2 separate regions of the Homo sapiens genome follow, and region 1 is linked to region 2. The links come from fine-mapping of genetic effects on gene expression. A gene starts in region 2. The other region holds a variant in brackets. All regions are shown on one strand. Distances are from middle to middle. Region 1 overlaps FNIP2 (folliculin interacting protein 2). Region 2 holds the start of FNIP2 (folliculin interacting protein 2).

Region 1 (5,382 bases), 58 kb before region 2:
GTGAAGATCCCCCAGAAGAACTGTGGGAAGAGATGCTGCTGCTGCTACTGCTGCTGACACTGCTGCTTCCCTGGCAGCACTTGGCTGATATTTTAATAGGAACATCCTCTGTTTTCTAGGTTAAGAGAGACAGGCAAGGTAAAAGATTACTAAGTATATCAGGTTCGTCAACAGTTCTTCATTGGGAATTCCTTTTTAAAAGCATTCTGGTGCCTAGGTTGCATTAAAAAACAGAAGCTTTTTTTTTTCCCCAATAATGACAAAAACATGGTTTGGGATGGCAGAATGCTGAAGAAGGGTTCTAGACAAAAGGAGGTAGGTTATGTATTAAGACTTTATCCTCTTTTAATAATTTAACTATTATTTACACTTCAATTCACATAATTGACCTCTGTTTTGGTTATTTGAGTTTTGATTATTAGCTTTTTAGTATTATGTAGAGTCATAATCCATTACATTGATGAGGAGAAAGATGAGGCTTCAAATCTAAATTTTTACTAAGCAAATGGAACTAATAAAACAAAACTATTAATTTGGGCAGACTGGCTCGTAGGGTTTTTTGTTTGTTTGTTTGTTTGTGAGATGGAGTCTCACCCTGTTGCCAGGCTGTAGTGCAGCGGCATGATCTCGGCTCACTGCAACCCGTGCCTCCCGGGTTCAAGCAATTCTCCTGTCTCAGCCTCCAAGTAGCTGGGACTTACAGGTGCCCACCATCACGCCCAGCTAATTTTTTTGTATTTTTAGTGGAGATGGGGTTTCACCATGTTGACCAAGATGGTCTTGATCTCTTGACCTCGTGATCTGCCCACCTCAGCCTCTCAAAGTGCTGGATTACAGGCGTGAGCCACCGCGCCCGGCCTACTTGTGTTTTTAATGACACACCTCCTCTACTACTCCTTTAAAGGTAACAGGAAGGAAAATCATGAGGTTGAATTTGTAAGGGATGAAACCAAAACCCTGAAACAGGAGCTACTGTGAATTACATAGCATGTGATGGAAATATGGTCTTCAAAGGTTAAAGACAACAGAGGATGCTCTACTATACATTCCCTAGAGTTTGCCACTAATTTTTATCACAGTGACAAACGTATAAGGATAAACCTTTATTAATATTTACCTCTCCCCAAACATATTACTCCCTACAGAAGCTTCCTGCACCCTCTATGATAAGTTATTTCTATTCTGAGTCTTCTTTGCCTTTTTTTTTTCCTTGTGTAGCTTTTGCTTGGAAAAAAACATGAATGCAATTGCAGCTTATCTAATCTCCAATGTGACAGTCACACTGGTGGTCTAATGCAAATGCCTGCAGTCATGTGCTTGATACAAACTCATGACGTTTTGTGCTTGCCAAGGGAGGCTGGGGCGGTGGGGACTGAAAATGGGAAAAGAACGTAAGGAAAACACAAAATGTGCTGGACCACAACTGTCACTCCAGCAATGATGGCATTCAAAGTGGCACTTGATTATTCCTGAGCACCCAGCACTCCCTCAACACGCTAAAGATAAAGCTGTTACTCAATCTCACTTAAGCCAGAAACACAGCCCCTCAGAGGGCCTAAGTGACACGAGGTGCCACTGCTTCAGACTGCTAGACCCTTTGGCTGGAGTACAATGCTGAACAGTCTATAATTGGAGAAACCACCTGGTGTAGTGAATAGAGCACTGACTGGATTCTTTTGTAGCCTTGGGCAAGCTACAAACCTCCTGAACCTAAGATGCCTTTTTGGTTAGATGAATGCTTCTAAGAAAGCCTATGTTTCCAGATTCCAGCATTATCAGTGCTCTGGTACACTGAAGATTCCAGTTCCTTTTGAAAACTTGTGTTTCTTTTCCCCTCCACCTGCCACCACTATGAGCAGCCCCAGTGATAGCTGCTCAACTAGACCATCCATGTGAGGCCTTCAGAGAAATGGGAAATAATTCAAGAAACTAAGAGGTAAACCATCTCCTGTCCACCAAAGGGTCAAGTGCTGGCTCACCTAAATTTCTGTTACAAATCTAACCTGGAAAGCCTACAGTGAATCACCTGAGAGATTTCTTGGTTTCCCCCTCCCTCCCTTCACCTACCTAACAAGCCCAACAACTACTGTAATGATTAGCCACCTGGCAGAACTCCACTTTAAAACACT[G/A]TGGAATCCACCCAGCTAAACTGTGTTTAACCAAACACTTCCTTCCTGCAGAAATGATCCTTATCAAAAGCAGGAAAACAACCCCTTGGCCCTGATGAGACAAAGACTGCGTTATAAACTGTTCATTTACTTAGCTGCACATTCTACAAACTGCCAGTATTTGGTCAGTATGGGTAGCAACTTATTGAACATAAAAAGAATGAATACAAGTGGATTTATTTAATTTGTAGGCATCTGAACAAATACTGAAAAGAGAATGAAAGGTCTAAAGTGAATTTACAAGTACCCTGGTATCATATCCAAAAAAGACCCAGAAAGGATCAGACTCTCCTCACCTTAAACATGTTACTTTACCATTCCCATTCTGGTTCCAAGGGATCAAGAGCTGCTCTATCCTCACTCTACCCATTGCTTGTCGCCCACCCTACACCACCACCACCACCACCACTACCACCCAACTCTCCACAAAAAAAATGGGAAATAAATAAAAGCTCCCCTGGTCAGAAGGGTTTGAGAAACAATCCTTTTTGAAGATAACAATGCAGGTTTGCATATGGAAGTCCTGTAAATAAGCAAAGCTGTTTAATTTTGTTTAACCCAGTGCTACTTATTATTATCCATGAGAAACACTGGACAGAATGATCTTCACACTAACACTTTATCACTTTATGAATTTTAGAGTTCTGCTTTCCCATTACATTTGAGGCACTCACTTGGCATCAAAATCTTACTGGATTGCAACTCACCAGCAAATTTACCTCTAGTACTATTAATAGTACACTGCTTAGCTCCTGCCATGATTACTTGCTAACAGTTTCACTTGTGTTTAGCAGTGAGCATACTCATGCCTGTTGGGGGTAGGGCTTTGATTAAAGGATTCAATGCTTGCTTATGTTTCTTCTGAACCATTAATGGCACTGTATAATATAACTCAAAGAGAAGATGATAGATTAATAAATGATTGATCAGAAGGGTGGTTAAAAGCACAAAAGAAAAGGAGAAAGCAAATCAGCATTTCATACCTGAGCTGTCACCTCCTCAATCTTTTGAACAGCTTTAGAGTCAAACAAGACTTGTCTGCCTCTCCTGTCACAGTCCTGGTAAACTATCAGGCGAATCTCATTCAGGTCAAACTCCGAACATGACCAACTGTGGATTAAAAAGGGCAAAAGAAGTTATGTTATCTGCAGCACATGAGATGATCACAGACAGATAAGCTTCCCAGTCACCATGCCTGTGTGCACATCAAAAGGCCACAAGCATGCAGGGCTAGTGATCCCCTCAGAACTGGGGCACCAGTGAGCCTGGGACAGATAGCCTTGTATGTGGATTCCAAAGGGCCATATGAAAATTGCCAGTTTTCATGATAAGGGCTGAGAAGACTGCTTTAAATAATAAATCACTGGAGAGAAAGCTTCTCCTTCCAAAGCCAATTTGGACACAGATGGCAGTCAGAAATCACAAGGACATGCAGAGAAGACTAAATTTGGATGCCTGGGTTCTGGGGACAGCATATCCGAGTTAAAGGAGTGTTAAGGCTTCTGTGTTATTGGGCAGGGAACCATTTGGAGCAAGTCGGTAGAGCCTTCTCTTCTTTCCCTCACCCACACTCAGGTCAAATTAAGAGGAATTACATACCCTAAAATTTATTATCTTCCCCGATTATGGCTAGCTCTAATCCAGGAGTTTCAGAAACCAAGTGCATCACTGTAGAGCACTGGAATTGCTAGCAATTACAGTCAGCAAGAAAGGAAGCATGTTTCTAAGCAAACCAAAAGCAACTGGGATAAAACTGCTCTGAGGAAAACATAGGTTCATTCTTAATAAATTACAGAGTGAGGGAACTACAGAAAAGATAATCATTTAAAAGTGCACTGCTTTGGATATACTCAGTTTTTAACCCATCAGTCCAGTCAACACATATTTGAGTGTCTGTGATGTTCCAGGCACTGTGGTTGCTGCTAGAGACTCAGCAATTAATTAACCAGACAGACCTGGTCCCCACCCTTATGGAGTTCATGATTCAGTGGGGAATGTTAGGCAAATAATCACAGACGAATGTATCACTACAAACTGTGAAAAGTACAAAAAGGAGCAGTAAACAGCTTCAGATTTCCAGATTGAAGGGGTAGGGGAAAGGGACAGAGAAGTCCCTAAGGACTTGAAGTGACATGTAAACACAGACCTGAAGAAGCAAAACAAATGATGCGCACCATAGGAACAGAGAAGGAGGTGGTAAGGTGTAAGACTGCTGCACTGGAGAAGGAAGAAGAAAAAAGGCCAGAGAGTGAGTGCCGTGAGGTGGAAAGGACGGCAGGCAGGGGCCAGGATCATGTTCTCCCTCCATGAGAAGCCAAGGAAAACAGACGCTTGATAAGATCAGGTCTGCACTTTTTGAAAGTTCAATCTGGCTGTTAAGGAAAATGGGGGTGGAAGAGATGAAGACTGGAAGCAGGAAGGCCAAACAGAATTCATAATAAGAGTTCTGGCCCTTCATAATGAAGGCTAGAGCTCCAGCAGCAGAGGTGGGGGAAAGGGGACAGACACTGGTGGCATGCTCAGAGGACAGAGTTGAGCCGGTTTCCCAATGGACTGGAGAGGTGCCCGAGGTGAAAGGGGGCCTTGCTTAGAGAAGCTGAGGGGGAGCTCTGACAGGACAGAGGAGGATAGATGGACACACAGACAGACTAACAAAAGCAAACTGTAAAACTAGGAGATGATATAAATGAAATAAGACACATCTGGATTCAAACCCAAATGCCTCTGGCCTCCTAGTTCTTCATCAGTACAATGAGAATATTAAGGCTGCCCTCACAAAGCTGTCCTACAAAGCGTAAAGTGCCTCACACAAAGTGTGACACACAGTAAGTGCTCCAAAATGGCAATAATTGCCTCAGAGGATTGGTAATGTTATGATTTTTAAAGAAAATTAATACAGTGTCTGGTACTCAATCACAAATTGTGCATTTTTGGTCTTTTCCTTTTTCAGGCAGTTAATACTGAACATGTTCTTTTTGGGTAGCAGATTTGTTTTCTTAAATCCCTACGGCAAAACATATAAAGTTCTGGTTGTACCTTCTTTCAACAAGCTGTGCCCTAAGTTATCACGCCCAGCATCCTTTCCTCCTAATCTTGATAATAATAAGCCAAGTTTATTTTCAAACCATCTTCCCTCTACTCTCAGTCCAGAGGGAGTCCATGTTTCAGGTCTGGCTAATGAGACATGGCCACATGACCCAAGCTGGCTGTGTGA
Region 2 (5,382 bases):
GGGACACTATTGAAGGGGGCCCTCATCAAGTAGGATGTTCAACTGGGATCCCCAAATTCTCCAAAAACATCGATCTCAAATTCTTGTAGAAAATCCCAATGAGGTCAAAAAAAAGACCGTACTTGGCACGATTTTCTGTTCTTCATTATACACAAATGAGAAGTCAGAACACTACTGAAAATGTTCCCATGAAGTGGGAATCAATTTCCCTAATATGGCCCAAAACCCTAAATATAGCCATATTTTTTTTGTTCAAATACACTCAGTTAAACTTGTGGATAGCGGAAATGGTGGTAGGCAATTAGGCAAGGAGCACAGAAAACAATGACAAGTAACCGCCACTATCTCCTCCTGCATTCAAATGGCTTTAAATGTCCTTGGCAAGAGCTGTCAAAGTACAGACACCTGTAACATGCTCCTTCCGCTCCAGGCTTTGTACCCCTGATGGAGTCTGGGTTACAGGGAGGGAAGGGACGAAATTACACACCTTAGGTCCGAAGTAATTCTACCATTCTGAGAAGGTACATGGCATCACTAATACTCAGCCTAACAAAAGGCATAGAATTCCCACTCAAATTATAAGGCTTGTTAGCCTAAAGAAAACATGAGAATTTAACTTGGGGAGTTTAAGGTCCTCACAATATGCCTTCCATGAGCGCGCGTGCACACACACACACACGTTTAATTTTCACATGACCACAGTGAGAGACTGTTTTAAATGATGGAATTCAAGAAAAGCAAAATCTAGAACATAAAACTTAATCCAGAATTTATTTCAAAGTTTCACTTGAAACTTTTAAAGGTTTATTATACTGGGTCTAGATCTGTTTAACAGTGAACTGTTTTTGCAAGACATTTTGGCCAAAAAGCACCTAGCATAGTGTCAGAATTGGGAGTTGGTGCTCAATTTTAAAATGTGTTGAAAAATTGTTAAATAAACTTCTCAACATACCTGTGCTCAAAGGCAATATAGGACATTTTAAGGCGTCTTTTAAAAGTTAGCCCTTGAAATCAGAATAGCATAGGGATTTTAAAGACTGGAATCTGTGGTCAAACTGCTTGGGTCAAAACACAGGCTCTACCACTGACAGCTGGATTTTGGGCAAGCCGCCTAAGTTATCTGTGACTTTAAGTTTCCTCACCTGTAAAATGGGAATTATAATAGCACCCACCTCACCGCATTGTCAGAAAAGTAAACGACAGAAATCAACATAAAGCATTTTAGGTAGTAAGCTCTCCATAAATGCTATCAATATTCAAAGGTATGTGTTCGAGAGATCAAATCTATTAAATATACATATCAGCTTTGATCAATTGAAATCTCGGAAATTTCATAATTGCATCTTACTCCCCCTTTCCACACATCATGCGGCATCAACCTTCCACATGATGTGGAAATTACATACTTTCATTCATCCGTTTGAGAGCTTGTCATATATGGCAAGAAAGAAGAAAGATGCCTTTTTCGTGACTGTTGCTCCTTCAGAACTTCAAAACACTGTCACGTACACAATAGGTTGGAGCTGCCCTCAAAATGACAGCTCACAGCTTTGCTGGGCCCGCAGAGGTGCCCAGGCGGCTCTGCCCGGAAGGGGTTCACCCCAATAACCGGAGAATCTCCGGTCGCCACAGCCAAGCACAGCGCACGCCCGGGAACCCCAAGGAACACAAGAGAACTCTGAAATGGGGAAGGACCCTGAGTTGTGGAGAAAGAGCGGGAGGAAGGGTCACGGAGGGTCCGGAGCCACACTCGGATCAGGCGCGTCCACGCTGACAAGCCCGGGACCAGGTGCCGGCGATAGGCAGCGCCGTCCTGGACAGTCCCTTCCCTTTCCCCTACCCGTCCCCTCCCCGGCGAGCACCGAAGCCAACTCGGGTCCCGCGCCAGAATTGCCCCCCGGCGCCCCCTCACCTAAAGGCGGGTCCTTCCTTAGGAGCCCTGCCCTGGGCAGACGCCGCCGCGGAGCTGCCGCTGCTGCCCCTTTTGTTGAAGAGCTTCTGGAGCAGGGTCGGGGCCATGATGCCGCCGCCGCAGCTCCGGCCGTGGCGCTCGGGGGGCCGGCGGCTCAGCGCGCAGCCGGGGGCGGCGGCCGCGGTGGCGGGGCCATCGCGGCGGCGCGGCCGCCCAGCCTTGCGGGAGCGCGGGGCCGCTGCGACTGAGTAACTCTGCTCGGCGCCGGAGCCGCCGGCTGCCGGTCATATGACTGAGCCGGCCCGCCACCGCCTCGCGCGCTGACAGTTATCTCCTGCGGGAGGAGCCCGCAGCCCCACGGCGGCGGCGGCGGCGCGGGAGGAGCGCGGCGGCCCCGGCGGCGGCCATTGGCCCGGCGGCCGCCCGCCCCGGGCTCACGTAACCCCGGCGGGAGGCGGGAGGTGGGAGGTGCGGCCAGGAGCGGGCGGGCGGCCCAGTACTCCGGGCACGCGGGGGACGCGGACGGGGGCAGGCGCGGCACTTAAAGGGGCCCGAGGGGCGAGGGCGGCCGCCGGGGCGCAGCTCCGCGAGTGGCGTGGGGTTCCCACGGAGCCTGGGTTCTTTCGCACAGCGAGCATGCAGCTAGGCCGATCTTTGTTCTTTAGAGACAAAGCCCCTGAACTTGGGTCCTCGCTTTGTTCAGGTACAAGAGCCCGTTCACAGAAGGCGTATGCTAGGGGGGAAGGCTTGGTACGCGCGGTGGCCGCTTCGGTGGGCTGTGATTTGAATCACATAGCACCCAAGGTTTTGTCAGGTTTCCTCCATGTCCAAATTCGATTCCTCCAGGCTTTCACAAAATTTAAACTGTTTATCCAAATCATTTGTTCTGTTTGGCGTCTTGGGCCACCATACCATGGTTATATAAGAAGTTGCATTTGAAATATTAAGTCCCCCCTTTAAAACATACACACACACACACACACACACACACACACACACACACAGAACTCACTACATAGATTTAGAAACTTAAGATATTTTATAGCAAGGGATTGTTTTTCCTAATACATATTTAACAGTCAATCAAGGCATATCAGCAGCAGATATTTGGTTTGAGGAAGGGAGGAGTTCATGTGTTTGAGTCCGCTTTCCTGCCCTGTCCCACCCCAGTCCCCTTTGGAATTTAATCCTTGGTGGTGCAGGGCTCTAAACAGCCAGTGTAGGACACGTTACCAGACTCAAAGCAACTTCTTAATCTATGTTTTAGAGCGTTGGGCTTCACGAATTTTTCCGATGATGGGAAATAGAGATAAAGTTAGTAAGACCCCAACCATGCCTCTTCTAGCTTCTCCATGAGTAGTGAACAGTGACTCACCTGGGCTCTCTTACACTTGTTGAGAGGAGGACTCTTGGAGACTCAAAAAGGAAAATATATTTCCAAAAACATAAGTAATCAAAAGAACCTATTCTGGGCCTATTTTACTTTGCATTTTCTTTTTTTAATTGTGTTAGTTTCTGGACTTGGTTGGGAACTAGCTGTGAATAATGTGCTGAAATTTCACAAAGGTAAGAGAAAGGTGGTAGAAATGGAAACTTAGTCATTTGTTTCCTTCGGACTTTTACTGTTAAAATGGTGGATTAAGTGTTTATCCTGATGAGCAATCATCCTTTTGCACAATTGAGTGTACACAGAACCCTAATTTGCAACTTTGCTATTTCTGTTTGCTGAAGGCCTTTACCTCATAGGGCTGCCAGTGTTGGTCAGGATGCTATATAGAAGGTATTGGCTTTATACGTTGTGACTTTCAGATACAGTCCCAGGTCATACTGTGGCCAGCAACTCACCACCTTTCCTTACTCCATCCTTGGTCAGAAAATGTCCTTTATTCTCCAGACTAAAATCTGCATGTTCCTCATGAGCCTAGCAGCTTTTGTAACTGCATATAGAAGAGGAATTTGACATATTGTGCCTCATTCCTCACTTCCTAGGACTCTTTCAGTTCCAACCCAGTCCAAATAGACAAGATCATCCAAAAGAGGCAATTAAAAAATCATAACCTGCTCTAGCCATCATCTTCAATTTTGGTTTTGACTAGGCAACTATAAAGGAAGAGTGTGTATTTTAAACTATTAAAGCCAGGACTTCAGTTAAAGGAGACAAAAGGAACCAAAATGCTTCCCTTCTCCCCTCTTTCTCCCTGTGCTTCCTCTCAGCATCACATTCTTCCTCATCCTGGTTCTGGCCACACCTCCTCCTTTGGATTTTTAAAGTATACAAAAATCCTAGCCAAAAAAGTTCTGGGAGACAGCTCTAGCCAGCTCTCCCAGTCTTCTTGTTTTTTATTTTTATTTTATTTTATTGGCTACTCAAGGCCGCTACAAAAATCCAATCTTTTGCCCATCATCCATTGGTCATTGCCTGGTCCCTGAGGCTTGTCATAATCTCAGTCTCCAACACTGGTCACGTGGCCCATCGCCCAGTTCCATACATCTCCTTTATTCACCTCTTCCCACTCACCCTATCTTGGAAAATATACCAGCTGGCTGTTCTTGTACGCAGCTGTCAAGAGGAGCAGGGAATAAGACAATATCCTGAATGCTTGGAGATGACAGAACAACACTAAAATGGGAAAGGGGAAGTTGTAAAGGGCTGACTTACTTAGTCCGGTCCATTCTGAGTCCTGGTGACAGTTCTCAATTAGTGGATATTATGTAAGTTGTTTTAGTTCTGCTTCTGCAATTAGACTGTCATTGATACCGTTTGTAGCCTATGTAATACCTGTTACCCTTATTCCTAACAGGAGGCAAGAGAGAAAGGAGCTGGAGGAAAAGGAGTAATTCTGGAAAAAGTTTCCTCACTCTTAATAGAAAGAGAGAGAGAGAGAGATAGGTGGGTTTTTTTCTTCCTTTGGATGTTATATGTCTAGGTCTAATGCCATCTTGCTACAAGCCTAAAGATGAAACCAGGACTGGAGATGGCAAAGAGACATAGAAGCGAGCTGGGTCCTTGATGGCATTATTGAGCCACAATCCCTCTGCCCTAACCTGACACTCTCCATTAGGTGAGATAATATTTCTATTTTCTTATAGACCAGTCTATAAGAGGCTGAGGCAGGTTCGTGTTTTCTGTCCTCTTTATTGCTTGTTATGTGAGACACATAATGCCAATCTGTTTATCTCTCAATATGCCAGAGAAAATACTTGTCACCAATGGTCCTGTTCTGTTTTTTCATACTGTTAAGTGATTTTGCAAATTATTTACAGAGCTAAGACTAAAGGAATAGTGAAAAATAATTCTTTAAAAAATTTTTAATTTCAGTACAGCAAACCCGTTTTTTATTCTATATTTTCCTGCATTTGAAGGATTATTTACCCTAAATGGACAGTGTTCTTTGAACGTAACTGACTACTTATCAATTAGCATATATGAACCAGGAACACAATCATCTTATAAATATTGATTCCAGGCT

Evidence for each region. PIP is the estimated chance that this variant, and not a neighbour inherited with it, causes the effect.
Region 1: its variant is fine-mapped to the expression of FNIP2 in T cells (TOPMed, PIP 0.94).

The regions. Positions count from the first base shown.
Region 1 is chr4:158,823,812-158,829,193 of GRCh38, reverse strand. FNIP2 (folliculin interacting protein 2) reads right to left here. Exons shown (of 17, transcript NM_020840.3): 2 at 3,152-3,278; 3 at 1-115. Among named protein-coding and RNA genes, the nearest start is that of FNIP2, 57 kb to the right of the region's middle. The variant G/A (reference allele first, on the strand shown) is at 2,130.
Region 2 is chr4:158,765,850-158,771,231 of GRCh38, reverse strand. FNIP2 (folliculin interacting protein 2) reads right to left here and starts at 2,206. Exons shown (of 17, transcript NM_020840.3): 1 at 1,913-2,206. The coding sequence starts at 2,019. RefSeq lists an enhancer at 1,561-2,298 and a silencer at 2,256-2,465.